3 separate regions of the Homo sapiens genome follow, and all the other regions are linked to region 3. Evidence: fine-mapped expression QTL. A gene starts in region 3. Each other region holds a variant in brackets. All regions are shown on one strand. Distances are from middle to middle. Region 1 overlaps SCML4 (Scm polycomb group protein like 4). Region 2 overlaps SCML4 (Scm polycomb group protein like 4). Region 3 holds the start of SCML4 (Scm polycomb group protein like 4).

Evidence for each region.
Region 1: its variant is fine-mapped to the expression of SCML4 in whole blood (INTERVAL, PIP 0.97).
Region 2: its variant is fine-mapped to the expression of SCML4 in whole blood (TOPMed, PIP above 0.99).

Annotation. Positions count from the first base shown.
Region 1 is chr6:107,711,352-107,721,645 of GRCh38, forward strand. It overlaps SCML4 (Scm polycomb group protein like 4), which reads right to left. Exons shown (of 8, transcript NM_198081.5): 6 at 9,352-9,642. Among named protein-coding and RNA genes, the nearest start is that of SCML4, 110 kb to the right of the region's middle. RefSeq lists silencers at 2,049-2,158, 5,425-5,574. The variant A/G (reference allele first, on the strand shown) is at 5,838.
Region 2 is chr6:107,725,795-107,736,088 of GRCh38, forward strand. The region is part of intron 5 of SCML4 (Scm polycomb group protein like 4); the gene reads right to left. Among named protein-coding and RNA genes, the nearest start is that of SCML4, 93 kb to the right of the region's middle. The variant G/A (reference allele first, on the strand shown) is at 6,366.
Region 3 is chr6:107,818,286-107,828,579 of GRCh38, forward strand. SCML4 (Scm polycomb group protein like 4) reads right to left here and starts at 6,028. Exons shown (of 8, transcript NM_198081.5): 1 at 5,841-6,028. RefSeq lists an enhancer at 4,111-4,180.

The DNA of each region.
Region 1 (10,294 bases), 110 kb before region 3:
GTCCCATAAGATGATAATGATTCTAGTTCCTATCGCCTAGTGATTTGTGTTGCAATTTTCTCCAGTATTCAGTACAGTAACATGCTGTACAGGTTTGTAGCCTAAAAGCAATAGGCTGTACCACACCGCCTAGGTGTGTAGTAGACTATACCATCTAGGTTTGTGCAAGTACAACCTATGATTTTCACACAACATTGAAATGACCTAAGGATGCATTTCCCAGAATGTATCCCATTGAGTGATGCATGACTGTGTTTATAAATAGGACTTGATAAATGTGAGATGAATCAATATACTCTGCAGACACAGTCTCGGTAACTTATACAAAAGCCTGTGTGTGTAATCTTTACTTCTATTTTAAGGCTAGAAAAAAGACAAGGCTCTGAACAATGAAGCGGCTTTCCTACAGAAGAATTCTAGTTAGAAGTTGAGAAGCCTTCACTTTATTTCCCTTCTTTAGATCTCGGGGCACAGTGGCTTTCTGCTGTCTCTGTCTCCTTCCTCCTTTTAATGTGCCTGAGACGTGCATGCTGCTCCATTAGCACTGAGGAGAATACAGCATCACATTTCTGCGTCTGTCCTAAACACATAATGGTTTGGCTGAGAATTGGATTGACTTTGAGATCTTCCCTGCCTCTTCCTTGTGGGACCTGGAAGGGTCCCATAAGGTGGTTTGGCACGGGGCATTTTTCTGGGAATCTGTTAATGCACCCTGGAGCCATCTGAATGCCGATCCACACTTATTAAAGATGATTTCACTCCATTTAAAGACATCTGCACTCAACATGGGGACGAGGAATCACGGAAATCACATTGCCTTTGGATCCTGCCCCATCAGAACATTGGCGTTAATCAGGGTGAAAATAGATGCTCTGATTACAAAGGCTGGAAGTCTTTAGTGCCAAGAATAATTTTAGAGTGATCAGAGCAGAGGTCAAATCTAATTTCCTGCATTTGACAGGAAGGGGGGAAAACCCAGACCAATTAACAGCATCATTCACAGGAACCTAGAGTCCTTTGAGCTAGGTCAGGGAAACACTTTCCCTTCAACTACAGTGTTGAAGGGCTGAGCCAGGTGGCTGGTTTGTCTTTAAGGAGGAGGCTCTCAGGACGATTGCTGTGGAGGGAAAGAGATAACTGAGATGGCAAAGTGGGCTCTGTTCCTGGTACCTAGGGCTTGCTGTGGGCACTTTTCACTTTTCCAGGATGGAGCAGAGGCAGCAGGGGCCTGGCTCGGGCGTGTTTCTTAGGGGGCCTTTTAGTCATACAAGACAGAGGGCAGCAGGCAGCCTAAGTCACACCTCGGGAGCTGCTCCTGATCCAAAGCACATAGATTCGCTTTAGAAAGGAAGAAAAATGGAGCTTTCCAGTGGCAGGTTTGCAGAGCCTCACAGTGGTCTGTGCTCACAAAAATAATAAATACACTAGCCACTCCCTCTCCAGCTGCAGCGAAGGTGTCAGGAAGACAGATGGGTGGAGCCTGGTGCAGCTGCAGCAGGCAGATGTGATAGATCAACAGTAAGACATGATGGATGTGGAAAAGTCTTGCTCCTAAGCAGACAGAGCATGCCAAGAAGCACTGGCCAGACACCTTTGTGAGCAGGCAGAGTTCTCCAATGAGGACATCGTGCTTGGTCTTGTCATTCCCTGCCAGAGGCATGTGAAAAGTGAAACCTAGTTATGAATGGATTAAATATGCTTGTTTCTAAAGCTGAACTCACATTTACCAGAGCTAGGATGACTATGAGTCAGTGTTTCAAAGCAATCCTGATTCTCACAGCACAGGTACTTGCACACTCTCTGTGAATCTCCCTCTGCCTTACACATGCCCATGAGCACATCCATACGTACATAATTTCCTTTCACTCATTCATAATTCAGGAGAAACTCTTTAGCTAACAACAGAGTCATGTGGAGGAGCGGAATTAGCAGTGAGCTGGGAGTCAGAAACCCCTGCCACCCACCAGCCATGTGATCGACTCTCTGCTTCTCTGTTGTAAAATAAAAGGGCTTGATCTCTAAGCCCCTGCCAGCCCCTTATGACACTGTGTAACCCCTCCCACCTCAGGCTGTTCCCACTAAGGGAGTCACTTCCTCCCACAGCTGAAGGCTGCATCAGTGTGTCCACATGCAAAACACACCGAGTGCAGCCACAGCCAGGCTTCCCGTCCCTCCTGGGCTCTGATCATTCTCTACGGACCTCATTGTCTTCATCTATAAATTGTGAATATTATTTGCTGCTTCTTAAGAATATTTTAAGAATCAAGAGAATGTGTCTCAGGGCTGGAGCCTGACCATAAGAATCTTAAAGACAGGAAGGTCATTGTCTCCGACAGGGACCCCTGTGTCCTCAGGCTGCCTGTGAGCTGCCCAGGCCCTCTTGGTTTCTGGCACCTGGAACTGGGTTGGGAGGACCGGGGCTGGCAAGGGGAAGGGGAGGGAGATCTGTTCTCAGCATCTCCAAGTGACCTGCTCCCACTAGATGCATCCTTTCTAGATACAATGCCATATCAAATGTGTGACATGCCCAGATTAGCCCACGATTATGGCAAAATCACATGGCTTGAAACAGTGCTGTTTTTCATTATTTCTATCTGTTGCCCAGGCTGGAGTGCAGTGGGGTGATCTCGGCTCACTGCAACCTCCGCCTCCCAGGTTCAAGTGATTCTCCTGCCTCAGCCTCCCGAGTAGCTGGGATTATAGGCAAGCATCACTCACTCTATCCAGAGTTTTCAAGATGCCATGTGGTGAGAGAGATGAGAGGGAAGAGAGCCCACTCAATCCTTAGAGTTTAATCAGATTTTTCTTTTCAATTATTTGAGACCAGCTGGCCTGCCTGTGTGAGGAGAGAGCATGTCTCTAGAAACAAGGAGAGACCATGGGCTTGAAGTCAAGCTGAGCTGAGCGAGATTCCTTCTTGGCCACCAGAAGACACTGTGACCTCCTAGCAAGCACTGTTACCTCTGCTGGGAAGCCTCCAGCCATCCCTCCTCCCTACTGACCCTCCCTGGTTGTCTTTCCTCCTGCTTATTCCAGCCAGCTCCACTGCCCCTTCTCTGGGAAGCCTTTCCAGACTCCGAAGGGTAGGCTCAGCCACTCCCTCCCCATCTGATTCTCCCACAGCATCCACACTTCTCCCTGACAGCAATCATCACAATTGTAATGAAATTAGTGTAATAATTTGTTGACATTTGTCTCCCTGGAGTTGCAAACCCTCAGAGAACAGGGCCGGTGTCCATCTTGTTCACAGCTCTGTCCTCAGATGTGAGAAGAGCCCCTGGCACACTGTGCCCAGGAAGTCTCTGCTGGCTAGGACCAACCAAAACCTGAGTCTTAACTGCCTGCTCTATAAAACACCTCGTTGAGCTGTTGCAAGGATTAAATGGCATAATGTTGTAAAGCATTAAACAGGATTACTCATTAGGTAGTTGCTGTTCTTCTTATTATGATGATGTCATTCCATAAATGGCCAGTAGATTTGTTTTCCTAAATCCCAGGGCCACCAGCTCACTCCCCTGTTCAGAAATGTCTGGTTTACAGTTACTACAGAGCAAAGCCCCATCTGCTTGAAATGGATCCCAAACCTCCCAGCATGGTTTCCCTGGTGTCCCTGCACAAACCCTTTATTTTTTTTTTTTTTTGAGATGAAGTCCCGCTTTGTCATCCAGGCTGCAGTGCAGTGGCATGATCTCGGCTCAGTGCAACCTCCACCTCCCAGGTTCAAGCGATTCTCGAGCCTCAGCCTCCCGAGTAGCTGGGATTACAGGCATGTGCCGCCACACCCAGCTAATTTTTGTATTTTTAGTAGGGACGGGGTTTCACCATATTGACTGGGCTGGTCTTGAACTCCTGACCTCAGATGATCCGCCCACCTCTGCCTCTCAAAGTGCTGGGATTACAGGTGTGAGCCACTGCGTCTGGCCCCTACACAAACTCTTTAATTAATCAGCTCTTGCCATGCTTTTGTCCGCTTCACCTCCTCACATACAATGCTGTTCTCATTCTTCTTTTTCTAGCTAAATTGTCTCCATCCCTCACCCAATGCCAGGCCCTATCAAATAAAAATCCAACCACAGGAGGCATTTGGGTTGTAATAGCAATATCAGATTGACTTCGTTTCTTGATTCTGAATCTTGGACCTAGTTGTGGTTGGGAATTCTACAGTGTGTCTTGTTAAATGCCCAAGTCAGGAAGCTTTTGTTATCCAAAACCTCTTTATAGCTCTTGGTGATTATATCTTGGATGAGAGACAAGGAAGAGCTCTCAAACTTTCACCAGAGCATCAGCAGACACCAGGAAAATGTGCCCTGTGAACACATCCCCTTGGAGCCCACTGGCAGCGGAGACAGACGTGATATATCACAACTGCAGGAAGCTAAAGGTAAGTACCGCCAGAGAGAGAAGGCTGAGGAGTTTGTCAAGTCATCAATACCCACCCTTCTGCCTGCAGCCTCATGCAGTTTTCTGGCTTTTGTGGTTTTAAACCATTTTGATTAGTACCATGGGGAAAATGCCATTTCTAAGTCTCTTCCATGGTTTATGACTTGGGTCAAACTCCCTTAAAGAGGTATGGTTTTTTTGATGATAACTGCTTTTTACTTGGGATGGAACTTCAGAGCAATATTGAACAGTCATTTGGGTGGGAGGGTGGGGTGTGGGGGGACCCACAGCAGGCACTAGGCTGACAGCTAGGTGAGAAATGGGTGAGGACGCTGGCGGTTTCTCTCCCACTTTAACATCCTGCCACTCAAGTCAGCATGGTTTTTATCTCCATGGTTTCCAAACATTTTTAGTTGTGCAAATTTTGTTTAAGCAAAGCACATATAGAACCCCACTCTGCAAATGTGAAAAGGCCCTGCTTAAAGAGAGGGAGGGCACCTGGAGTCCTGTCTGCTCTTGTTCCATCTTCTCCATCTCTTAGAACCTTGAAAGCCATCAGGCATGATTTGAAAACCCCTGGGGTTGTTTTGAAAGACAGGCTTTGGAGCCCACTGAAGTCAGATCCTGGCTTAACACTTGATTTACCTTCTCTTGAACCTCTTTTTCTTTATCTTTAAATCAAATATACCAATACCTTTTTATAAATATTAAATCCTAAACATATAACTTATAATAAGTCGGAAACTGTCTGGCCCCCTTGAGTGTAGGTGTTCAATAAATAACAGTCTGATACAGGCCTCAAGCCCCCCTTTGCCAGGGCTGTGGGGGGTTCAAATATGAATAAGAGGCTTCACAAAGCTGAGGGTCTGTTCCTTTCTCTAGGATAGAGTAAGAACTATAGATGAGGAAACAAAGTGCCATGGGAGGAAAAAGGAGGGAGTGAGCATTTCTGATCAGACTTCCCATTGCCTACTCAGCGTTACTTTGCACTTCTTCCTCTGTAATAGCAGCCCTAACTTCCATCTGGAATCATGGTTGCTAGGAATGAAAACCACATTTCCCAGCATCCCTTGCAGCAAGTGGCCATGTGACTACATTTTGGTCAATGAAATGTAAGCAGAAACGGAAACCTCTTTCAGAGACACTGGTGCTATCCTTCCTTCCGTCTTCTCCCCACCCACTTCCTCTGTCTCACTGCTGAGAATGTGCATGGCTGACTGGCTGTTTCTGGTACCTGCGGTTTTATTTAGCACCCTGAGGAAGGCACTGGTTAAAAGGAATCTTTCGGCTGGGCGGGGTGGCTCACGCCTGTGGTCCCAGCACTTTGGGAGGCCGAGGCAGGCAGATCACGAGGTCAGGAGATCGAGACCATCCTGGCTAACACTGTGAAACCCCGTCTCTACTAAAAATACAAAAAAAAAAAAAAAAAAAAAAAAAAAAAAGCCAGGTGTGGTGGC[A/G]GGCACCTGTAGTCCCAGCTACTCAGGAGGCTGAGGCAGGAGAATGGCATGAACCCAAGAGGCAGAGCTTGCAGCCTGGGTGACAGAGCGAGACTCTGTCTCAAAAAAAAAAAAAAAAAGGAATCTTCGGAGAATTAAAGTGTTAACAGACCTACAAAGGATGAATAATTTCATTTTTCTTCAGTGTATCACAAAGGCTCAACAGTGAACTTCAACTGATACATCACATAGCAGCTTTTCTCCAAAGAGGTTAGGTGGCTTTGCGATTTTAAACATCCCACAGTCCCGTGGTGGGGGTCCTGCTGATTATGGACAACTGGATTTCAGGGTCTCAGGCAAAGTTCTCTCTAATATTTATTTTTATTTATTTATTTTTTGAGACAGAGTCTAGCTTTGTTGCCCAGGCTGGAGTGCAGTGGCGCAATCTCTGCTCACTGCAACCTCCACCTCCCGGGTTCAAGCGATTCTCTTGCCTCAGCCTCTCAAGTAGCTGGTATTACAGGCGTGCATCACGACACCCAGCTAATCTTTGTATTTTTAGTAGAGACGGGGTTTCACCATGTTGGTCAGGCTGGTCTCAAACTCCTGACCTCAAGTGATCCACCCGCCTTGGCCTCCCAAAGTGGTGGGATTGCAGGCATGAACCATCGTGCCTGGCTGGTTCTAATACTTCTAAGTTATTAAAAAGACAGCCAGGATTCAGGGTTCAGGTATTGATGTTCTTGGGATGAAAGGCAGCAGGCACAGGTGGACTCCGTGTCTCTGATCTCATCCCAGATCCTGACAGGCAGAAGGGCCTGAGCTAGGGGGCCTCTCCTGGGGTGCAACCAGGCTCCAGCAGAGAGGCTTTCTCAGAGCTGGAGGCTGAGGAAGGGTCTGGGCTGCCCCTCGGCCAGTCGTCTGGCAAGATTACTCAGACTGTCAGGGCCTGATTCCAGGATGATATGAGTTAGCTCTGTGTCCCCACCCAAATCTCACCTTGAATTGTAATAATCCCCATGTGTCAAGGATGGAGCCAGTTGGAGATAATTGAATCATGGGTTTGGTTCCCCCATTCTGTTCCTGTGGTAGCCAGTAAGTCTCACGACATCTGATGGTCTTATAAAGGGGAGTTCCCTTGCACAAGCCCTCTTACCTGTCACCATGTAAGACGTGCCTTTGCTTTCCCTTTGCCTTCTGCCATGATTGTGAGGCCTCCCCAGCCATGTGGAACTGTGAGTCCATTAAGCGTCTTTCCTTTACAAATTACCCAGTTTCGGGTATGTCTTTATTAGCAGAACAGACTCATACACAGGAGAACAAAGGGCCGGTATGGGGATGAAAGTGAAGGACAGGAGGACATCCTAGGGCTCAACTGGAAGGAGGTGTGAGGGGCTGGGGGACAGGAGCTATGCTGAAGCCCTCTGAAGAGCCCTGGATTCCCTGGCCCTGGGTCACCAGTTGGACTGAACAGGGCAGACTGTTGTTGAGTGAGTGATAGAAGTTCTCTCCAACCAAATCATGCCTCCCTCTTACTGCTGGAAATCCTGCATTTAAGACATAGGGCTGAGATTGCACCAACGTGAGTGGGAGAGAGAGTAAATATCTCCTTTTTAAAAAGTGGGACTCTGGGATTATGAGTCAATTCAATCAGCATGGTGTCCTGTGATCACCACCCTGAGAAAAGGGGAATGGGGCTGAGGAGAAGAGGATGAGAGAAAGACATTTAAACTCAAGAGGGACATAAGGATGAGTGTTTTGACAAGAAGACAAAGGGACACCGTGAGGGCACAGACATGATGCATGTTTATTGAACACCTACCACATGCCAGATATTAAGCTAACACTGGGGACAAACCTATGAAATCAAGGCTGCCCCTGGTTTACTTTACAGTGTTGGTTCGTGAAAGATCTTGTCCCTTTCTCTTGTTCTTAGGAATCAAATGGAACAATGTTGCTCTCCTTTGGAAAATAGGGCTCTGCTCACTTAATCTGCCTGGCTCATGGCCCTGTGTGACAGTGTTGGAAAGTGGCCTGCAGGGCATCTCTACATTTGGTAAGAGCTGCTGTGGAGGGAGAATCTGCGCTCTACCCCTCAGAACGCCTCTCCGGCAAGGGGCCCCTTCTCACCTCTCCATCCTTGGCCAGGGGAAGCTGGTCAGGGCCACGCTCATCTGGGTTGGATGAGGCTCTTGGAAGAGAATGTGTGGAGGGTCTTGAATCATACAAAATAGCTCACGTGTGCGGCTTGCTGGGGTCACTGGTGGAAGGATCCTAGGCTCAGGGGAGAAATGTGACTTGCCACAGAAGACAGAGCCTGCCCACTGAGGGGCTACAGGGTGGCAAGATGAAGACTCCCAGACTCCTTGGCCTGGGGCCTTCTTTCTTCAGCAGTTCTCAGCTGTGGAGCTGATGGGCTGTGATCTGTTAAGGGATGTGTTAAAAAGATCTATGCTGTAACTACTAACATTTATTGAGCTCTTGTTACCTCCTAGGTCTTGTACTAAATGCATGTATGAACTCATTTAATCCTCCCAACAATCCTATGAGGCAGGTGCTGCCATTATTATTATCACAATTTTATAGGTGAGGAAACTGAAGCACAGGTAAGTTAAGACTTGCAAAAGGTAGGCAGGAAGCAGCAGATCCAGCATCTCAGCCCAGGCTGTCTGGCTCTAGTCCCAGTGATTATCCACTATACTCTATGGCCTTTAGGCACTATCAAAATACTGAAGCTTGAAAATGATTTTTTAAAACATCAATCAGAAGGGCCTTCAAGCTATTACTATAATCCTTTAGCCCTTATAGCGCTTTTGTAGACTGCATTCCAACAAGCTTTCTTTAGTGGATGAGACAGAAGTGGCATTACAACCAGCATTGGGGGAATTTTGCCTAACTCTGCCTCTGCTCATGTATTTGTATCCTGAAGGTGACACTTCCTATGCAAGAGACAATTCTTTACCAAGGTCTGGTTCTCCTTTCTCCTGGGCAGAGCTAACCTACAGCTTCCAGAGTCCCTTATGGTTAAGTGTGGCAAAATGACCAGCTTTTGCCAATGAGATGTGAGTGGAAGTGATGAGCATCACTTTCAGATTGCAGGGAAGCACCTGTGTCTTCTCCACACCTTCTTTCCCTTTCTATTCCCTAATGCATGGGGCATGAAGGCTGTAGAGGGTGGCAGAGCCACAAAATAGATGGAGCCTATGTCCCTATATTGAGATGCATCCATGAATCAGGAACATTCACCTTTGGCTCTCGAACAAAAATTTCTATGGTATTTGAGCCTGTGTACATTTTGGAGTCTACGTATCCTGTGGCCTAGCCTGCCCTAATACACGATTTTCTTTGCTTATCAAAGGTTGAGTTTGGCTGTTTTTGAGAACCTCAAGATCCATGAAAGGACTTGTGGAAATTTCTGATCTCCCAGCAGTCCCACGTTTAAACAGCCACACTCCCCCTTCCCCAGATGCTGTGCTCCCCGCGCAAGGGCAAGGGATGTTAAGTCAGTGGGAAGCTGATGCATGCATTACATTACCACATCTGTTTCCTTCAAGAGAGGTCGTGTTTCTCTTGGGGCTGGAGGCTGGAGGCCTCAGCCCAGGTGCCGAGGGGCCACCAGAAGACATGGGGCTAGTGCGGGGACCACCAGCGGTGGCAGCAGGACCACCCCCAAGGTGGCTGTCTCCAGAGTTCTGCCTCTTGCAGTACAGCGAGGAGGAGGGGTGCAAGGAGCCCCTGTGGTTAAAGGTGGAGGCGGAGGTGTCCACGCTGTAGCGGTTCATGCCCACAGGGTTCACCAGGTACTCTTCGGTGGTGACTGTCTTGACTAAGCAATAAGGCAGTACAGAGAAGCAGATATCAGAGAGCAGTTCAGGAAGCTATCAGACCCTCCGTCTTGGCAAACCCTGCCCTGCCAACACAGTAGCCAGTATTTGTGAGCATGCAGAGAGGAGAAATGAACCTCACAACATAATTCCAAATAGCATACCTGTCAGCAGGCTGAGAGCTGCTTTGCCCACAGGAGCATATTGTAATAGGAATTAGGAGGTGTGCTCCTCGGTGCTTAGAGGAAAATTGATATTTTGGCCATTGATGACTTAATAAGCCCAAATCAGGCCAGGTGCAGTGGCTCCCGTCTGTAATCCCTGAACTTTGGGAGGCCAAGGCAGGTGGATCACCTGAGGTCTGGAGTTCAAGACCAGCCTGGCCAACATGATGAAACTCCATCTCTACTAAAAATACAAAAAATTAGCCGGATGTGGTGGCAGGCACCTGTAATCCCAGCTACTCAGGAGGCTGAGGCAGGAGAATCGCTTGAACCCGGGAGGCAGAGGTTGCAGAGCAAAACTCCATCTCAAAAAAAGAAAAAAAAAAAGAGTAAGATCAAAGACTTTCTTCTGCAGTGGCTCTGCCCTCACAGTCTCTGCTGGCTTCTCAGAATCTCCCTGTACTCCCTGCTCTTGCTCACCCACCAGCAC
Region 2 (10,294 bases), 92 kb before region 3:
GTTTGCACTGGGCACGGTGGCTCATGCCTGTAATCCCAGCACTCTGGGAGGCAGAGGTGGGTGGATCACATGAGGAGTTCGAGACCAGCTTGGCCAACACAGTGAAACCCCGTCTCTACTAAAAATACAAAAATAAACTGGGCATGGTGATGCGAGTCTGTAATCCCAGCTGCTTGGGAGGCTGAGGCATGAGAATTGCTTGAACCTGGGAGGCAGAGGTTGCAGTGAGCCGAGATGGCGCCACTGCACTCCAGCCTGAGCAACGGAGCAAGACCCAGTCTCAAAAAAAAAAAAAAAAAAGACACCATCAAGAAAGTGAAAGGACAACTCACAAATTGGGGGAAAATACCTGCAAATTATATATTTGATCAGGGACTTGTATATCTTGTAAAAGGGGCTAGACTTATACAACCAACCTGTGTAAGGGACTAGACTGTATTAAGAGTTATTCTAGCTGGGCTGGGCGCGGTGGCTCACGCCTGTAATCCCAGCACCTTGGGAGGCTGAGGCGGGTGGATCATGAGGTCAGGAGATCAAGACCATCCTGGCTAACACGGTGAAACCCCATCTCTACTAAAAATACAAAAAATTAGCCGGGCATGGTGGCAGGTGCCTGTAGTCCCAGCTACTCGGGAGGCTGAGGCAGGAGAATGGCGTGAACCCGGGAGGTGGAGCTTGCAGTGAGCTGAGATCGTGCCACTGCACTCCAGCCCGGGCAACAGACCGAGACTCCATCTCAAAAAAAAAAAAAAAAAAAAAAAGAATTATTCTAGCTCAATAAAAAGACAACCCGATTTTAAAATGGATAAAGGACTTGAATAAACATTTCTTTAAAAAGATATACAAATGGCCAGTAGGCACATCAAAGCTGATCCACATCATGAGTCGAATCAAATCAAAACCACAATGAGTCACCACTTCACACCCACTAGGAAGGTGATAATCAAAGAGTCAGATAACAAGTGTTGGTGATACCATAGAGAAATTAGAACCCCCACACCCTGCTGGTAGGAATAGAAAATGGTGCAGCCACTTTGGGAAACAGCCTGGTACTTCCTCAAATGCTTAAAGTAGAATTACCATAAGAACCAGCAATTATACTCCTAGGTATGTACTAAAAAGAAATGAAAACAAATGTCTACATAAAAATCTGTACATGAATGTTTACAGCAGCCCTATTCATAATAGCTAAAAAGTGGAAGAAACTCAAGTGGCTATCAACGAATGAATAAAATTTAAGAATCTGTTATATCCATACAACAAAATATTATTTGTCCATAAAAAGGAATGAAGTACTGATATCTGTTACAGTGTGAATGATCCTTGAAACATTATGCAAAGTAAAAGAATCCAGCCACAAGAGACCACATGTCAAATGATTCTTTTTATATAAAATGTCCAGGAAAGGCAAATCTATACAGACAAAAAGTAGATTCGTGGTTGCTTAGGGATTGGGGTTGGGGTGTGGGGTGGGTAATAGCTAAAGGGTATGTGGGAGGTTTCTTTGAGGTGATGAAAGTATTCTACAATTGACTGTGCTGATAGCTGCGCATATCTATATACTAAAAGTCACTGAATGGTACCTTAAATGGTGAATTGTATGATATATGAATTATATCTCAATAAAGTTTTTTTTTAAAAGGCGTTTGCAGAAGTTCAGTGCTTTTCAGATGAGGCTATGAACATATTCTCAAGAATTACGTGCAGTCAAGTGTAACAAACACGGCGTTGGCCACCAGGACACACATAACCTAAGCAGCCAAAGGGTCTGCATGCTCTGTGCCGAATGCTATGCAGCCAATGAAGTGCTGCGAGATGTCTTCAGGACCCTGGAACGCTACATCTTTGCCTTGATGGCCTCGCTGCATCTCTTCCCTCTGGGTCAGAAGCCTTCGGAAGGGAGATTCTAAAAAGGACCTGGCTATGGAGCTATATACTAGGCTGCTTTCTGAATGGAGTGAGGGAAAGGAAAACTCACGTGTATTGAACATCTACTATCTACTATCTACGATCTAAAGCCAGTAAGCAGTAAGGCTGCCATTACATTCCTTTTGTTGGAAAGTTCTCATAGTCTGGGATACCAATCCTTTTTGTGTCCCACATGTCAGGTGCTTTGGTATATGTGAGGAAGCTACATGCAGTATCTGGCATGATGCCTGGAATAGAGGAAGTGCTTGATAAATATTTATTGAGTAAACATTTGAGCCAATGTTAGCTGTAAGGCTGCCGTTACACAGAAGACTCATTAAAATTGATATTATAAAGAGCTTATATATAAATTCTTTAGGTAGATTTGTGATAAACAATGAAAAAAGATTTAACAAAAACAGTACACTGCTTATTGAACACTTTAAGTCTAAATTAAATATGCCTACATAGTTCTGATAGTCTAAGGTAGAGAATGCAGATAATTCACTGACTGGCACTATAGTTGGAAAATACAGACGCAGATGGCAGATCATTCCCTTATCGCAAAGTGTGGGAATGGGGAACAAGGGAACATGCACTGAATGGATTTCAAAACTGTTGACAGCGGCCAGGCACCGTGGCTCATGCCTGTAATCCCAGCACTTTGGGAGGCGAAGGTGGGCGGATCACCTGAGGTTGGGAGTTCAAGACCAGCCTGGCCAACATGGTGAAACCCGTCTCTACTAAAAATACAAAATTAGCCAAGCGTGGAGGCAGTCGCCTGTAATCCCAGCTACTCAGGAGGCTGAGGCAGGAGAATTGCTTGAACCCAGGAGGTGGAGGTTGCAGTGAGCTGAGGTTGCATCACTGCACTTCAGCCTGGGCAACAAGAGCAAAACTCTGTCTCAAAAATAAATAAATAATTATAAAGAAAGAAACTACTGATGCCCGTGGGTGAGATCAAAGGTAATAAAAGCTAACCTCTGGGCTGTGATCCAAATGAATTATCAGAAGGGAAAATAGGCTTCGGAGGGCATCAAGCAATACCTTCTACCCAGGCAAAGGATGTGCTGGTGGTTCCAAAGTCTGCCCAGGTGGACAACTGTCAAGACAAATCAACCAAGCCCCAGATGTGGCTCTGTAAAGTGGCTCCTGGGTGGCCGCGAGTGAACAGCACGTTCAGATGCACACACTGTGGTGGCTTCCAGAATTGATGAAATGGATCTGTTCAAACCCGATTGAAACTGCATTTTCCGCACTTTTCTATAGAGGGGTTCTGATACATCATAGCTAAGCGTAAAAGTGACAGATGCATGGATGGCCCTCATCATTCGGTGGCAGGAAGGAAAAGGACCTTCACAAGCACCCAGCCCAGCATTTCCCCAAATGTTAAATGCTTTCCACTGGCGGGACAGGGAACCACATGGGTATATTCATTTCCTAGGATTGCAGAAACTAACAAACCGGGTGGTTTAAAACGACAGAAATTTATTCTGCCATAGTTCTGGAGCCTACCAGTCTGAAATCAAGGTGTCCACAGGGCCAGGCTCCCTCTCAGGACTCTAGGGGAGAATCCCTCCTGGCCTCTTTCTAGCATCCCCTGGTGGCCAACAATCTTTGGAGTTCCTTGGCTGGAGACAGCGCTCCAATCTCTGCCTCCACTGTGGTGTTTTCTCTGTGTGTCACGATCTGTGTCCAAATTTCCTTCTTCTTCTAAGGACACCAGTCATGGGATTAGAGCCCTAATTCAGTATGACTTCCCTTTCACTTGATTACATCTGCAAAGATCCTATTTCCAAATAAGATCCCATTTCCAAAAAGGGTTCCAGATACCCGAGAATTTGAACATACACGATTCAGCCTACGACAACCAGTAAATGTTTTTTTATTGTCATGTATTTCAATGTACATCCACGACATATAATTAGCACATCAAACAAAATGATTTCACTGATACAGTATGATTGCTTAAGCTGACTAATGGCTAAGATTAAAAGACATGAGTTAATGTAAAGGAATATCTTGAGTAGACAGTTCTATAAGTGTTACTCAGACACAGTAGAAATTGTGAAGGTGGTAAATTAATATTTGGAATGCATTGAGCTAGCCCCAACCTATCTCTTCAGGCAGGGTGTTGTCTAGAAAAGAAACTATGGTAGATAACTGAGTCTTTTATTTGAAAGCTTCCCCAAAGAGATTTTACAATCTCCTTTAGAGTGAGGCCATTGTGCTATGAATCTCATTGCCTAAAAGTTCCTCCTTACATCTAGCCTCAATTCTTCTTGCTTCAGTTAAAACACATGACTGCTGGACATGTACCCTTTACACTATCCAACATGTTAGGTCACCTCAACATCCAACATGAGGCAGATGAATTCTAGGTATGCAGAACTACTAGGAGCTTAAGAATTTAATTGAACTGTGACATATGTTTCTTACCTAAATCCAATATTTAAAGTCAGTAAAAAGAAAGGACCAAGTCTGTATCTGGAGAGGGAACCCCCACTTTTCAAGCGCTTTTGTGGCTGACTGGTGAGCAAACACCAGATGGGGCCAGCCGACCTGTTGGAGGATCTAACTCCTGCACACAGAGTCCCGGCAGACCGTAGGGCTCACAGGCGAAGGCACTCATGGTCGAAATTTCCTCCTGTGTCCATACAAAATCGTTTTCCATCTGAAAGAAGCTGTCTTGTCACCCTGGCACTGCTCATCAACAAGAGGCTCCAACCCAGCCTGTGTGAGGCCATTTAATTGCAGTGGAGAATGCCAGCTTAACAAAGCAAGGTAAATGAGTGGCTTTTTACTCACTTCTGTAACCCTCTGCATCCAGCCAAGAGACTAATGTTGCCATTTAAGAATCATTAAATCTTTTCCTCCAGAAAAAAAGAATGATCTGCCTTTTGCACAGTCACGAGAGCATGCTTAAATAGAAAGGAAAACACACACGTGGCCCCATCAAAGAAATCTGCCACATTTTCAAGGTTTGGCGTCCTGGGAGCTTTCAGGACAGACTGATGGTCCTTTTTCACCATCGCTAAACCTGCTTGTGGACTATGGTTCCCTCCAGCCACTGTGTATAAAGCCTGCCTATTAGTGAGGCCAAAGAACACTCTAGAAGCATGTAAACCCACTCAAGCCTCAAGGCATACCTGTTTGCATATGAACCTGAACTGTGCCTAAGCCTTCCGGTTTAGGGATCAAAGCTTCAGGGTTCTGAGTCCAGAGTGTGTGGATTCCTCCCTTGCTCCCTGATCCTTGCTGAAGCCTGGGGTGGAGATAGGGTTAGGTAATGCCCCTGCATCCATGGCTTCCAGGACACCCAGGTGCAGCCCATTTCTGCTACAGTCCTGGAGGGTCAGGTGTGAGCCCCTGAAATGTAGAGAACCTCCAAAGAGAGAAGCAGAAAGAGGAAGAGGTGCAGGAGAAAGCCACGAGCCAGAGAGAGAAAGAGAAAGTCCCAAAACAGAGCGGCAGGGAGGGGAAAACGGACCTTATGTATAAAACTATAGATGCTCCTGACCAAGTGTCAGCTCTCCTCACTTAGGACACAAGGCTTAACTGCTTACAGCCCAGTGGGCTCGGACTATTGATTTTATTTTTAAAAACTAAACTGGCATTTTACCTGGATTCACTAACCAAATGAAGTCCTGAAACACAACAATTCCACTATGCAAAATTATTCTCACATAATACCTATTAAGGCAATAAGAACCACAACATCTAGTCTTAGACACTATTTGTCATCTCTAAACAGTTCTGCCTGTTTGTCTTTCTCTCTCTCTCTCACCCCCCACTTCCCGCATCAGTCTTCCCAGTTGAGGGAGCAGCTGCAGAGTGAGCCCTTTCCACAATCAGCACGACCACCTTCCTCCAGACTGGGAGCCCTGGCCTTGCTCAGGATTGATTGCCTGACCCCTTTGCCGGTCTGCCCAGCCCTGCCGACCCCCACACCCTGCCCAGGCAATGGTCAGTGTCCTGTGGCCTCCGTGTGTGAACAGTTTGGTTCGGCTTGCTGACAGAGATGGCAACATCAGAGATTCCTAGCCCTGAAACCCAGATTAGAAAAGGCAGGAGTGCAGTTCGCAGATTTGTAGAGCTGTGGAGCAGCTACCCCTCTTTGCTTAGCCAGGTGCCATCACCTAGATAGTACAGGAAAAGGAGACCTGCGAGGAGAGGGGCAGGAGGGAGAAGGCGCAGGAAGCAGTAGCAGGTGCTCGTGCCAGCTGCACCTCTTTTACTCAGAGCCCAGACACAGGTGCTTCGGTGCCTACCTTGGTGGTTGTGTCTCTGCCACCCGGCAGCCTCTCCCACTGTCCTCTGGGGGACCGCCGGTTTCCAGCACGTGCTTGGTGCTGTGGGATGCAGAGGGGCCTTCTGCTGTGAATCTCTAACGGACTTCCTGGTGACCAAAACCTGAAGGTTTCCTCCCCTGCATGCAGCCTTTCACTGAGGCTCCT[G/A]TGGAGGTTTGCAGATTTTCTTTTCTCAAACTCAGTCCCGCCCCTTGTTCTTGCAGATAAGGGAGTTTTCCCTTAGGGCCCTCTGTGGCCTCCTGGCCCAGCCTTTCTGGTTCAAAGGGCACAGGGCCATACTACCTATGAGGCTGAGCATTTCATTTGCTTCAATTAAATTTTCCATTAACTTGGTCTCTGGCCAGTATGGATTTTCTCTCTAAGGTTGTCTCTGCAGTTCAGATCACTCAGCCCTGAGAATCAACCTTATGACTCCCCTCTGGTCCATTTAAGTACATTTCTATTTTTTCTCCCCTAATGAGATGCACAGCAACCGACCATAATTTTAATGCCTGACACCTGAACTTCTTACATCCTCTCAGATGTTTCTGGTTTGCCTAAGACTTTGTTCTAAGCCTAGGGGTTGATTTCCTCCTTTGGAAATTTTGACCAAAGGCATTTTTGACCAAAGTCATCTGTTTGGGATAATGAATGGCCTTTCTGTGCTCTCGGGAGGAGAGCAGGTTCCATACCACCCTCCATATGATCTCGCAGCTTTGCCAAACCTCCACGCCAAGCTTATGAGAATTCCCGAGAGCTGGGGGAGGCGAAGTGGGTGGGACATCCTGTGGTCACGCTGTTTCCTCCACAGCCCCCACAATTTTTTGGTCTTTCATAGAACCTTGGGGAAATTAAAAGTGGTCCTTAATCAGGAAAATGCTGAAGTTCCTGGAATAGAGGACGCCTTGTAAGTTTCCTTTCTAAATGGACATCTCGACTTTGAGAGAGGTTCACAGCACTCCTAGCATTGCTCACTCTGGTGGAGCAAGTTGCTGTGCTGTGAGATGCTCTGCAAAGGGACCCATCTGGCAACAAACCAACAGCTCATTGGAAACTCAGTCCTGCTGACAACCATGTGAAAAAGCTGGAAAAGTGGGTCCTGCCCTAGTTGAGGTTTGAGATGCAGCCTTGTGAGAGATTCAGAACCAGAAGGCCTGTGGCTGCACCTGGTCCCCTGACCCACAGAAGCTGTGAGACCCTAAATGTTATTTTAAGCCCCTAAGTGTTGGGGGTAATTTATGACACAGCAAAAGATAACTATTGTGGACAGAAGAAAGGAAGCCGTTTCATTCCTCTTGATTCTGCATGTCCAGATTGGAAGTTGTCATTATTAACTCAGCAGTAGCTAGGATAGATCTGGTACAGAGTATCTGCCCACTTCTCTGCCAGGGAGTTTATGTTTGTTTGTTGTAGTTTTTTTCAGCAAAGGGTTTGTTGCTTATGAATGAAACACAGAAAGCACCACTATTAGGAGAGAGTTCATGAAGTTCATCTTAGAAGCCTACTGGTTTCCTAAGCTGCTTCAGCTCCTCTTGGCATGGTTTGCCATTCTAACCCTAGTTCTCAAGCATGGACAACAGATAATGGTGTGAGTAGCCTGCAGATAGCAGTACCTTAGGGTCCGCCACAGGGGCTCAGGGTTGTGGTCCAGGGGAATAACCAGAAGGGGTCTCTAATACAACCTGTGCAGGTCCTGGAGGCCTCGAATGGCTGCATCTCACATACCCTGTCCCTTTGTTTCCACCAGTCCTTGTGCTTCCACTGTTCTGAGGTATAATCAGAGAACTTGGTTTCCAACCCCTTGGATCTACTTAGATGCCTGGCCCATCTCCCGGACCTACTCTTCTGTCAGAGGCAGGAGCCTCTTTGGACAGGCTCATCAGAAACAGAACATCTTCTGCAGTGGACACAGACACAACTATTTGATAGAGAGGCTGGGAGACCCCCGGCCATCTGGCCAGCTCTAATGGCTCACGGAGAATCGAGGAGTGGGGGCGCCACATGAGGGACTGTTCGCCTCATGGAACACAGGAGATTTCCAGTAGATTTTGTTATTTGAGGAGTGGGCATAGGGTAGAGGTAGGGGTGTCTTTCAGAGGATTCCTGGGGTCAGCCTTCTAGGAAGAAGGAGTCCATTTGGCCTCTTTTTTTCAGGCTTTTTATCTCCTCCACACCCCCAAACAGTAGAAAGCCTGCAAGGGGTTTACCACCAGCATCATTCTACTCCTCAAGTCTCAGGTGCTGGCATCTTTAATCCACAAAATAAATTGTGATTTAGACAAGAAGAGTGTTCACTTCTTTTGTTTGTTTGTTTGAATACAGTTACTTTCTACCAAAATTTTATCAAAGGGGTCAACGTGACTCAATATTACTCTAGTTCATATTGAAGATACCTTGGGCGATTAAAACAACTTAATTGGAACATTCATTCATTGGTTAATAGTTATGGAGTAAATAACTTCCTCGGTATCTACAGGACATGAGAGAGAACCTGAGCCTTACAATGCAAAGGGATCCAATCAACTGCTGGACATAATAGAGAATCCATTTTAAATTCTACGAAATGCAGGCTTTTCTCTGGAGGCACCTTCTTTAAAAAAGAGATTACATTTTTCCCTTTTAGTTCAATATTTTAAAATATGTACAGATATCATAATTTAATGAAAGATATCACTGAAAATATAAAGCTTTTCCTAAATGAATTTACATAGGCACATGGGGAGAATTAGGATGAGGACTCCTACCCTGGAGAACACTCCCTATTCCATGGTGTAAGGGTTCTAGCTTGGCCTCTATGGCCCTAAGTGTCAGGAAAAATATGAAGGCTTTTGTATTTTCTACAAAACTGATGGACACTTTTTAGTTTCTTTTTGTTGTTGTTGTTGTTATTGTTGTGGTTTTTGAGAAGGAATCATGCTCTGTCACCTAGGCTGGAATGCAGTGGCACAATCTCAGCTCACAGCAACCTCCACCTCCTGGGTTCAAGAAATTCTCCTCCCTCAGCCTCCCGAGTAACTGTGATTACAGGCATCCACCACCACACCTGGCTAAGTTTTGTATTTTTAGTAGAGACACGGTTTCACCATGTTGGCCAGGCTGGTTTCAAACTCCTGGCCTCAAGCAGTCCACCCACCTCGGCCTCCCAAAGTGCTGGGATTACAGGCGTGAGCCACCGAGCTCAGCCTCTTTTTCAACCTTTTCATCAAAACCTTCTGCAAGGATTCTTAAGACCAGAGCTTGTCAATAGTTTATTCTCCTTCCAAATGACCTCCTTTCCAATGCTCAGCTTGAGAATGAGACAGCTCATTTGTCCATGTGGCCCTTGGCTGTGACAAACACAGCTCCACAATGTTCCAGTCATGTGGCCTGCACTGGGACACAAGCAGGTGCAAAGGCATCTGCAGGAACGCACCTCTCTTCATTCCTTTCCTTTCTTTCTGTTTTTGAGGGCGGGGGGATTCCAGTTCTGTTTTTTTTTCTTCAAGTTTTTTTTATTGTGGTAAAACACATATCACATAAAGTCATGGCCCGACACAGTGGCTCACTCCTGTAATCCCAGCACTTTGGGAGGCTGAGGCAGGTGAATTACTTGAGCTGAGGAGTTCGAGACCACCCTGACCAACATGGCAAAACTCCATCTCTATTAAAAATACAAAAATTAGCCAGGCATGGTGGCAGGCTCCTGTAATCCCAGCTACTTGGGAGGCTAAGGCAGGAGAATCACTTGAACCCTGGAGGTGGAGGTTGCTGTGAGCCGAGATCACGCCACTGCACTCCAGCCTAGATGATGGAGCAAGACCTTGTCTCAAAAAAAAAAAAAAAAATTATCATCTTTACCATTTCTAAGCATACAGCTCAGTGATATTAAATACATTCAAAATGTTGCATAACCATCATCAGCATCTATCTCCATAACTCGTCTTGTAAAACTGAAACTCTATACCCATTAATCAAGAACTCCCCCTTTATTTCTTTTCTTTTTCTACCCATCATTCCACATATTAATTCAAACACTAGATCAAACTCTGCCACTGTCTGGTGGAGTAGGCTACTTGTGTGGGTTTTGTAGAAATGAGGAAGTTCCCTGGCAGCTGGAA
Region 3 (10,294 bases):
AACTCCCCCAGCACAGGCCACAGTGGCAACAGCATGAACCAAATCTTGCTTGAATCCAACAAATGACCACAGATTCCTCACGACTGAAAAAATAACAGAAATCTATTCCCCCAGTGGAATTCATTACTGATCAATAAACCCAATGCATTGTGCAACATTTGTGATTATTCTCTTTGGAATCAACAGCATGTCTTAATAGCTAATTGTTTGATAAAGCCTTGACATCACCAAAATTTCCCAATAATGAGGGCACTAAATCCTAAAGAACTGTGAAGGAAAGAGGTCAGCCTCTTCTTTGGAAGGCCACAAAGAATGAGAATGATTCTTACAGTCCTATAATCACTCAGAAATGGTTAGGCCCAAAGGAATTAAGTTACATGACCTCCAAATCCTGTCTCCAAAACCAAAAGCATGAATGCCCTGGAATAGGCTTTCGCCTTGTGTTTTTCTCTTCGGTTCTTCCTTTCCTCATTCACCAAGGCAGACTGCTTGTCAAAACAGGATTAAAATCCTGAGGCCAGCCCCTGGCCGACTTGAAGTCTGCATCTAAGGCAGGGCCTTAGACATGGCAGCTCCAAGTGTTTCATGGGCCTGGTGAGAGGGGCAGGCCCTGGCTCTAGACACCAGGGAAAAACATACTCCTTAGTGTTCAACCCTGGTTTTCTCATCAGAGCAATGATGTCCCAGGATGACCTGTGGACAAAAGAGGACGGGAGAAGAGAAAATATTTTCTTCAGTTCAAAAGAAAAGGCCCCTATGGTCTATGAGCTGACAGCTGTATGGTACTCATAGCTATTACTGAATCCTTTCTGAACTGCACCGGGGGTACAAGAGGGAGAGTGAAGGTCTAGTGCTCGGTTGGAAGGGAGAAGGAACAGGCTCCCTTCTCTTTGTTTTATCCTACTGCCTCTTTGCTCCATACCACTTTCCCCTGGCTGGATTTAGACCCAGCCAAGTTGAGTATTCATCTTTATGGGAGCCTGCACATGTCTTTAGGATTACTTTCAGGCCATATGTTTCTGTTTTGAAACAATGAGGGCTTCTCTATAATGATCAGCACAGGGAGAGGAAAAGGGCAAGGGCTTTGGTTACCAAATATTCAGCTCCCCAAAGTTGAGTCACCATCGCGGGGCTAAGCAGACAACATCACCACCTTTCAAAGCACAGTGTTGACACTATTTTTTCCTGGCATACTAATTTTCTCATAACAGCCTGCTCCACTCCTCTGCTTCTGTCTTGCATGTTTTCTGGAGAAAGTAAGACCTCCTCAGCCCAGCCAATTTCTCAAAAGGCTAAGACAGCCTGGCTGCAGGAATGTGCAATCATTCTTGAAAATCAGCAATGGTGGGTTGCATTTATCTGATCAAAAAATGCAACTGCCAAAAAAAAAAAAAAAAAAAGCACATCTGCCTCCCCACAAATGAAAATTTAGGTAGCATGTGTCTAAGTTAGTGGCAGAGTAAGAGGAGTTTATATGGTTTCTTATCACTGGACTAAAACACAACTAGTAAAACTGGTATAGTAATAGTCACCCCGGGAAATATGCAATGTGGATATCAAAATCTACTCCCATTACTTCAGAGTGTCAAATGGACTGAGTGGAATGACTTTTCAGCTTAATGCAAAGTGAGAACTGCCACTGGGTAATAAATTCCTTTCTGTCCTAAAATAGTAGCCCAAGAAATAATCATCCCAAGAAGTAAGAGGTGTTTTATCTCCTCCGCGGCAGCAAAGGGCTTCTCCTGATTGCTAAGTGCTGATTTATTCCAGAATGCACAATTGCAGCTTGCTGCTGGTCTCCACCCCATCCGCCTGAAGGCAGGGATGTTCTTGTCTGTGTCAGAACTGCCTGCTTAACCCAGCAGGAAGCCTTGTCACCGGTATTCAGCCCTGGCCACGTCTCTTGGCTGAGAGAAGCAGGAGCCCAGCAATGCTAACATTTGAAAGATCCAGAGGGAAGAGAGGAGGCTGACTTTTGAAGGGATGATCTGCATCCATCACCACTTGCCCTCCAGATGCTATACCCAAATAGCAGTGTCCCTCCTGAGGCTGTCCCTGAATGCCACCCACCAGTGACCAGCCGCACTGGGAGGGGTGTGTGTTTGTGTGTGCGTGTGCGTATGCATGTCTGAGAAGGGCTGTTGTGGGGCAGGCTGCTCTGCAATGCTGAATGCTCCTGTCTGTGCCTCTTCAGACATTAATATATGCAGATCAGAGGAAGCTAAATTCCAAGCCTCTGTAAGCATGTCCAAAATGGCCCTCTTGCCCAAAGCACTTCTTCAAGTCTCAAACTAAAGATCAGCATTTGACAAACCACGGGTGAGAGTTTGCAAAAACATGAAGGAGTGAGCCCTTGCCAGAATTGAAACCAAGACGAGTGCAACAATGAAAAACGCTTAGAACCCACGGGCTGGCAGCCAGGGCGTTCGGACTTGGTATGGGCGTATCAACAAATGCAGGGTTCCCCACAGCGATTTACAGCAGAGACTCTAGTAGAGATTTACAGCAGACTGGAGCACTGCGCTCTTGCAAATGCAGAAGTTTGGGGTGGGGAAAGGTAGAAAAGAAAAAAAAGAAGAAGAAGGAGAAAGTGACATATTCAAATGCGATTCAAACATTCCAAGCTGCTCTTTTGACCTCAGAAATTTTACCACGATTTGGGTGATCCTAATGGTCTGTGGACCACGTTGGAAAATGTCACAATAGATGTTTGAATTAAAATCCAGTAGGTTTGCCAAAAGACCAATTGTTAAAAATTGGCAGCATTCCAGAGAACTTACTAGGCTGTGTACTGCCCCGGGGCTGAGAGAACTGCTAATTCCAGAGAAAGTTAATTATCACCTTATTGATAAAAGGGTAATTTTTAAAGCTTGTGGTGTGGCTTTTGTGACTCATTAATTAAAATTTAGAGTAATTTACTAGATACCCTGGTGGCTTCTGTTATATGATATCTGTACCAAGCCGTTTAATGTCTCTCCCAGGGGCTGATTTAATCCCCCTCTTCTCTCCTCACCTGTCTGCTTTTGAAGGCAATGAAAACATTAAAAAATGTGTAAATCTAAAACTAGCCTTTTGAGAGATGGCAGAATTAAGAAATAAGATGTCTAGGGAGGCATTGTTTAAAAGTTCCTTCTTAGAAACATCAGATGTGCCCACCAAAAGAAAGAAGCTTGTGTGATCACACCAAAGGCAACTGCTTTCACAAACTTCATCCACAAAATGTTAGACAAGATTTTACGCTCCATGATAATCAGATTAAAAGAGGGTCTTTTCTCATCTCCTTTCCCTTCTTTCCCATTCCATCCCCACATAAAATCTGAGGGCTCAGGGGAAGAATGACACTGGAGATGCTTGGTATCCTAAGGCTCCCAGCCCAATGAGGGGTAGTGTCACCTGCCACGCTCTTCAGGACTTGTGGAGTGGGATGGGCACATCCCGGCTCCCTGGCATCTACCCATGTGATATTGAGGTTTCCGAGGGCAGGGACTTGGGGAGGAAAATTGTCCTGCAGATCCCTAACAGGGCCCCTGTGAGGGCTTTCAAGCTCCAGCCACCACCTCTGCCTGGACCAAAAGTTCTTTAAGGTGCGTGTCATAAAGGATGTGTGGACACATGTGTGATGTGTCCTCAGGCCACACAAAATTGTAAACAGACCTACGAAGCACTCTAACATTTAAGCCCCCAGACTCCCAGAAAGGTTATTCCTCTCCGAGCATTCCTTGTTATGATTTCAGGGAACTTCAGTTATGTTTCCTTAAAAGTATTGAAGTATTTGAGATCCAAAATTGAGATTAAAAATACATAAACAGCAGAGATGATTTTCTCATCATTTCAAATTTTAAAAATTAAAAAAGTCTATCTTTGTACTTTGGGGTAGTGCTTGAATTTTTTAATAGGAAAGTGTTACTGAGTATTTTTTTAAAGTCAATATTGTTTTGAACTCTCATTATAAAAGTTCTTGCAGCAAGTGACAGTATTTGGGTCTGGCTTGTTTTCTGTGGGCTGAGCTGCTTAGCTTACCTGCTGCTTGCTAGAGGAGACAGCCTTTCACCCTCACCCCCAGGAGTCAAGAACCAGAAAGTGAAACTGCTTCTGCTGATTTCCCTCGCCTCGAAAACACACCACCAAAAGCAAAGAAATGATGAAAAGCAACTTACTCGTTTCGCTTATTGTTTTCTTGTCTTTCTATTACCGTTCATTTACTCTTTTCTTTTTTTCTTTTCTTTTTTTTTTTTTGCAGCAAAATAAAAGTAATTTTGGGGACACAGGGAAGAAATGTAAACATGTTATACATGAAAGAACTGGATTTTTGTGGGCTTTGCACTTTTGTTATAATTCCACAAATGAAGCAAACTGATGAATTTACCAAAATATTTCAGAGCTCATCTACGTACACAATTTAAAGAGCTAAAGAAAACACATTCATATTTTTTAAAAATTCTGTCAAAAAGCCTGTTTAAAAGTTATAGTTTGTGAAGCCACCAATTTCCCTAAAACTGAAGATTCTACATTAACCTTTTGAGTTTAGACGATCACGCAGTACCGATTTTCTAGGTAATCTTCACCCAGCTGCTGTTGCTCAAACAGCCCCTCATTTTATCAGACTAGTTCTACCAAGCAACACAAAAAATGCTCCACACAAATATTATACCCCCCAGATAGTTTAACACACTAAGAATTCCTTTGTAGTTATTTTTATGCTTTCACTCCAGATATTCTATTTTGCTTTAAAAAAAAAAAAGTGGAGAAAAAAAGCAGCTATATCCCTCATTCTTCAAAAATGGTTCCTCTGGTTGAAAAGAAAGAAAAACAGCATATAACAAATACCCTGATTCTGAAGTGCCTGGATTACTTTCTCAAGTACTGTAGTGTCTGAGATCAGTAAAAAACCACTTTCTCAGAAAGCCACTGATTGTCTAACCCTCATGAGTACCGTCATGGAATCTAGAGACAACACGAGGAGACACCTCTCGTTCACGATCACAGATAGTGGAAAGAACTTTGACTCAAGCACCTCAACTCAGCAAAACAGCTCAGCAGCCTGCACCCTGGCCTCATCCACCGCTCCTGTCCAGCCAGCAATCAACCTGGAGAGGACCCCTCATGCTTTGGGAGGAGCACGTGGAAGCTGGTTCAAGTCACAGTGCTCCACCTGGGAAGGAGGTGATTTTGAGCTTGGGAAAACTGCCGCTAATACTCCATAGTCACCAGTTTTTTTCCCAAAAAACGAATTAAAACCAGAAACTAGCAGTAAATATTATTCTTATTTATGCCTCATAAATTAGGAAAAACCAGCACAAAGACATGTGAAATATTCTACCTGGGATATTTGAAATAAAATTAAATGGGAAAAAAAACACTTTTACATGTTCATAACATACCAATTTTAATAACCAAATTTTAGGTAAATATTTTTATCCCAAGACATAGTACAATTTTTTTAAAATTAAAAAGCAAAACAAAGCAAAATTATCGTGAAGGGAAAAAATAACTAACCGGTTACTTGAGTTCACATTTGGAAAAAAATAACTTTCTAGGTATTTAAATGCAGAGTTAAAGAGTAATGAACATGTATATAGCCCAAATTTATAAACTATATAATTCAATGTTACATTTTCCCCTCTGAGATCTGGTTAATAAATTAAATGCTGTACTTTGCATATGAGGAACTAAAGTTTACCTACTGGACTCAGTGGTTTTAGTGCAGGACACTCTTGTGCGTTGCCATAGAGGTAGGCATGCAACCCAGAAAAAACTGAAACAGGTAACCTGTCATGCTGACAGTTACAAGAGAAAGATCCCGTGTCAACGGCACGCCTCCAATTGTGCATCTCCCTTACCTACAGCTTGTTCACCAGAGCCCTGAGCAGGTTGTTTACCAGGTCGGGAGTGTTGACTCAGAAGACAGATGACTTTCAGCACATGCAAACCGAGTATTGCAAAAGCTATCTTCCACCCGTGTTAGTAGCTCACAGTTAGTCTCCAGCAGCCCTGCGCTCCAGCTGCAAACATCTCATTAGACTAATGCATTCAGCACAGGCAGAAAACTCGATTTACCATAGCTACAGCAATGAATTTCCATTACGATGACAGCTTCAACCACATCATGTCCGGAAAACCAGCCAACCACTGGCTTTTAAAGAACACACACATTTTACATGCAGAAAACGAGGCCTCTGTGTGTGTGTGTGTGTGTGTGTGTGTGTGTGTGTGTGTGTGTGTGTGTGTGTGTTTTGTGTTTCCTTCCTCTTAGCAGCCTAAGAGAAATGTGCAGTGTAGCTTTTTGTCGACATGAGCTGCAAGGTAATGACACTTCTGCTTCTTTGGTAGTTACATCCTTGTAATAACCTGAATTATGTCACAATGGTTAGAATGGGTGTTTCCAACATTTCAGTTTTCATTACCCCTCCTCTGTTGCCATAGAAACCAGACTGTAACATCGTCTCTTTGTCCCAATCCTGCAGCAGTGTGGGCCAACACCAGGCTTATAAGACACTGGTGATCTGACAGAGTGAATGTTTGACTTTGGACAAATAAAACAAAAAGAAATATTACAATAGCATCATTGTTCAGGAGACCCTGTGTGATTCCCAGAGCAGTGTGCCTATCCAGGTGTGTGCACACACCATGGTTGTACATATTAAATCAGCGGCTGCCCACAACATATGTGTACAGTTCATTAAAGCCGGCCCTGACTTTGGCTCCAGGCCTGTATGTGTGTGTGTGTAAGCATCTCTACCCACCTCAACGTGGTGGGACCTGCACAGGATAGAAACAGGGCAAGAGTGACTATTCATTCCCATGCCCCATTGCATTTTCTGCAGCAAATCAATATATATCGGCGAAGGGATCTTTTCTTTTCCTTTCTTTTTGTAAAGTGGAGCAGGGCTCCCCATTGCCCATTTCATCCACTCTGGGATATTGGCATATTCACAGGTATTTCCTACAAGATGAAACATCCATTCTACAAACATGTGGCTTACTCCTAGGGATGAGCAGCAAACAAATTTAGCCGGGACTAAATATCAACCAGGGCTAACGAAGGCTTAGGCCACAACCTGGCCAGTTACTGAGAGTGAAAAAAACTGCAATGGACAACTTGAGGTTTCTCTAAATATATGTGTAGAGTCACATTAGAAGTACATAAGAAATCTCTCCTCTGAAATTTATTATGAAAATATAAAAAATTGTTTTAAGTCAAAGCCTTGTAATTAATTGAGCAAGAAGAAATTCACTACTTTAGTTCATTTAATCATCAAATTTTGTTGTTTTGTATGGGAAAAGGCAGGTTTGGTAGTTTGCATTTTCATTTCATATAAGTTGATTTCACTAAAGAAGGAGGAAGAGGAGAAGAAAAGAAAATAAGATGGATGGGCCAGGTGCAGTGGCTCATGCCTGTAATCCCAGCACTTTGGGAGGCCAAGGCGGGTGGATCACGAGGTCAGGAGATCGAGACCATCCTGTGAATGGTGAAACCCCGTCTCTACTAAAAATACAAAAAATTAGCTGGGCGTGGTGGCGGGCGCCTGTAGTCCCAGCTACTTGGGAGGCTGAGGAGGGAGAATGGCGTGAACCCGGGAGGCGGAGCTCACAGTGAGCCGATACCGTGCCACTGCACTCCAGCCTGGGTGACAGAGCGAGACTCCATCTCAAAAAAAAAAAAAAAAAAAAGAAAATAAGATGGATGGGCTAGGTGTGGTGGCTCATGCCTGTAATCCCAGCATTTTGGGACTCCTGGACTTGAGGTTAGGAGTTCGAGACCAGACTGGCCAACATGGTGAAACCCCATCTCTACTAAAAATACAAAAATTAGCCAGGCTTGGTGGCGCTTGCCTGTAATCCCAGCTACTCGGGAGGCTGAGGCAGGAGAATCGCTTGAACCTGGGAGGGAGAGGTTGCAGTGAGCTGAGATCACGCCATTGCACTCCAGCTTGGGTGACAAGAGTGAAATTCCATCTCAAAAAAAAAGAAAAAAGAAAGAAAAAGAAAAGAAGAAAAGAAAAGAAAAGAAAGAAAAGAAAAAGAAGAAAAGAAAAGGAAAGAAAAGGAAAGAAGATGGATGATTTAAGTTTGGACAGCATCTCTGTCCCAGCGACAGCGGTTATTATACTCACACCCGTGGCCTCACACATGCCACACTACACTGAGCTTAAAGCACCTGGAATGGGCTGAGACATTAGACCAATTTTCACTCTAAAATGTTTCTTAGGATTAAAAAAAATAACATTTCTTAAGTAATCAGAAATAATCTCCAAGTCCTGTAAAAGAAGTAAAAGGGTTGGCAGAATCTACCCATAAGAAAGGAGTTGCTGGTTTTCCTACCCAGCTCTGTGAGGGTTTCTCACTCTGATCCTCAGGCCCAACCTCCTTGCCTCCTCCCAGATGGGCTACTGTTGTCCTTGTCCTCAAGGTGGGTGCATGTGGGAAGCACCCATTGTCATCTAACAGGTCAACTTGGTAATAAAGCCTAAAATTGAAATCAACAAAAGCTGGATTGCTTGGGCGCGGTGGCTCACGCCTGTAATCCCAGCACTTTGGGAGGCTGAGGTGGGCAGATCACAAGGTCAGGAGATCGAGACCATCCTGGCTAACACGGTGAAACCCCGTCTCTACTAAAAATACAAAAAATTAGCTGGGAGTGGTGGCAGGCGCCTGTAGTCCCAGCTACTTGGGAGGCTGAGGCAGGAGAATGGTGTGAACCCGGGAGGCGGAGCTTGCAGTGAGCCGAGATCACGCCACTGCACTACAGCCTGGGCGACAGAGCGAGACTCCGTCTCAAAAAATATATATATTTTTTATATATATGTATATATTTAAGTAAACAATATTTATTTACTTAAATATGTTATTCAAAATATTTGATATTTAATAAATTATTCATTAAATTATGTAATTTAATAAATTTAATAAATATGTAAATATATTTATTTAAATATATCTTTATATTTTTATTTAAATATATTTACATTTTTATTTAAATATATATTTACATTTTTATTTAAATATATATTTGTTTTTTACTTAAATGTATATTTTTATTTAAATATATCTTTATATTTTTTACTTAAATTTTTTTATTTAAATATATCTGTATATACACACATTTATTAAAATATATATATTTAAACTTACTGGGATTTCTTTCTTCATGCAACCAGGAACATAGCTTTTAATAACTTAAATCAATATTTTAAAAAATCCTAAATGTTTTTAATTCCAAGAAAAATTTAAGTTAAACATGTAAGAAAAAAGAAATTTGATGGGATGACTGGTATTAGCTGAGGGACCTGCTAAGAAGAAAAGTGACCGCTCTGAGCTAGCATCTCTCTAAGTCTTGTACATCCCTGTCCCATGAAAAGGGTGCTTAGGTTGTGCCACGTTGTTAATTTTCTTTGCACTGTGGTTACATTTCTGTCTCAGACCACAAGCAGCATGTTCCACTCTCTCCACACGAGTGCTACTGGGCTGGTGGTTAGCAGGAGGCAACCAGAGGGAGCAAGTTAATTTGGGGGCGTCCCAAATGCAAATCTACTTAGAGTAGCCTCCATTTGAAGAGTAATCCTTCTGTCAGCTGCTGGTAAAGACACCGTTCACATTGAAAATGGCCTTTGTCCTAAAGAGTTGTGTTTTCCAACACAAGCATCCGATCGAGAGGATTCTGTCTTGGACTGGCAGTCAGTGCTACCGCCGAAACAACCTTTGTTATAACAGTGATAGCTAACATTTACTGAAGAATTATGTGTGAAGCCCTTCCCATTTTGTATCCCATTTATGACAATCCTATGAAGTAGGTATTATGATACCATTCCCATCTTACAGATAAGGAAACTGAGACTTAGGGATGTTAAATAACTTGCCCAAGGACACACAGCTTAGAAGTGGTAGACACAGGTCTGACCCAGGCAGTCTGTGCCCAAAGATACTCTAATTAATCATTCCACCTCATGGATCCTGGCACTGCCACTTGTTCCAGCCCTACCACTAACCCAATGACATGGGTGAAATCATTGACTTTCTATAACACGGGACAAGGAAATAAGGGACTAGATCATCTTTGTGGTCACTTATGGCTCTGACATTTCACAAGCCTAAGAACTGCTTTATCTCTAACTCAAAACATCGGTCTGCTGAAACAGGATGACGCTTTGGGTTGGAGGAGTGCTTAGTTGTGATTATGGATATGGCCATAATTACAAAGGGGCAAAAAGTGTCCTTTCTCTCATTAGGATAAGACCTAGTAAACTAGAGCTTTGGATATCAATTTGGAGCAAAGGTAGGGAGGAGAGAGCATGGA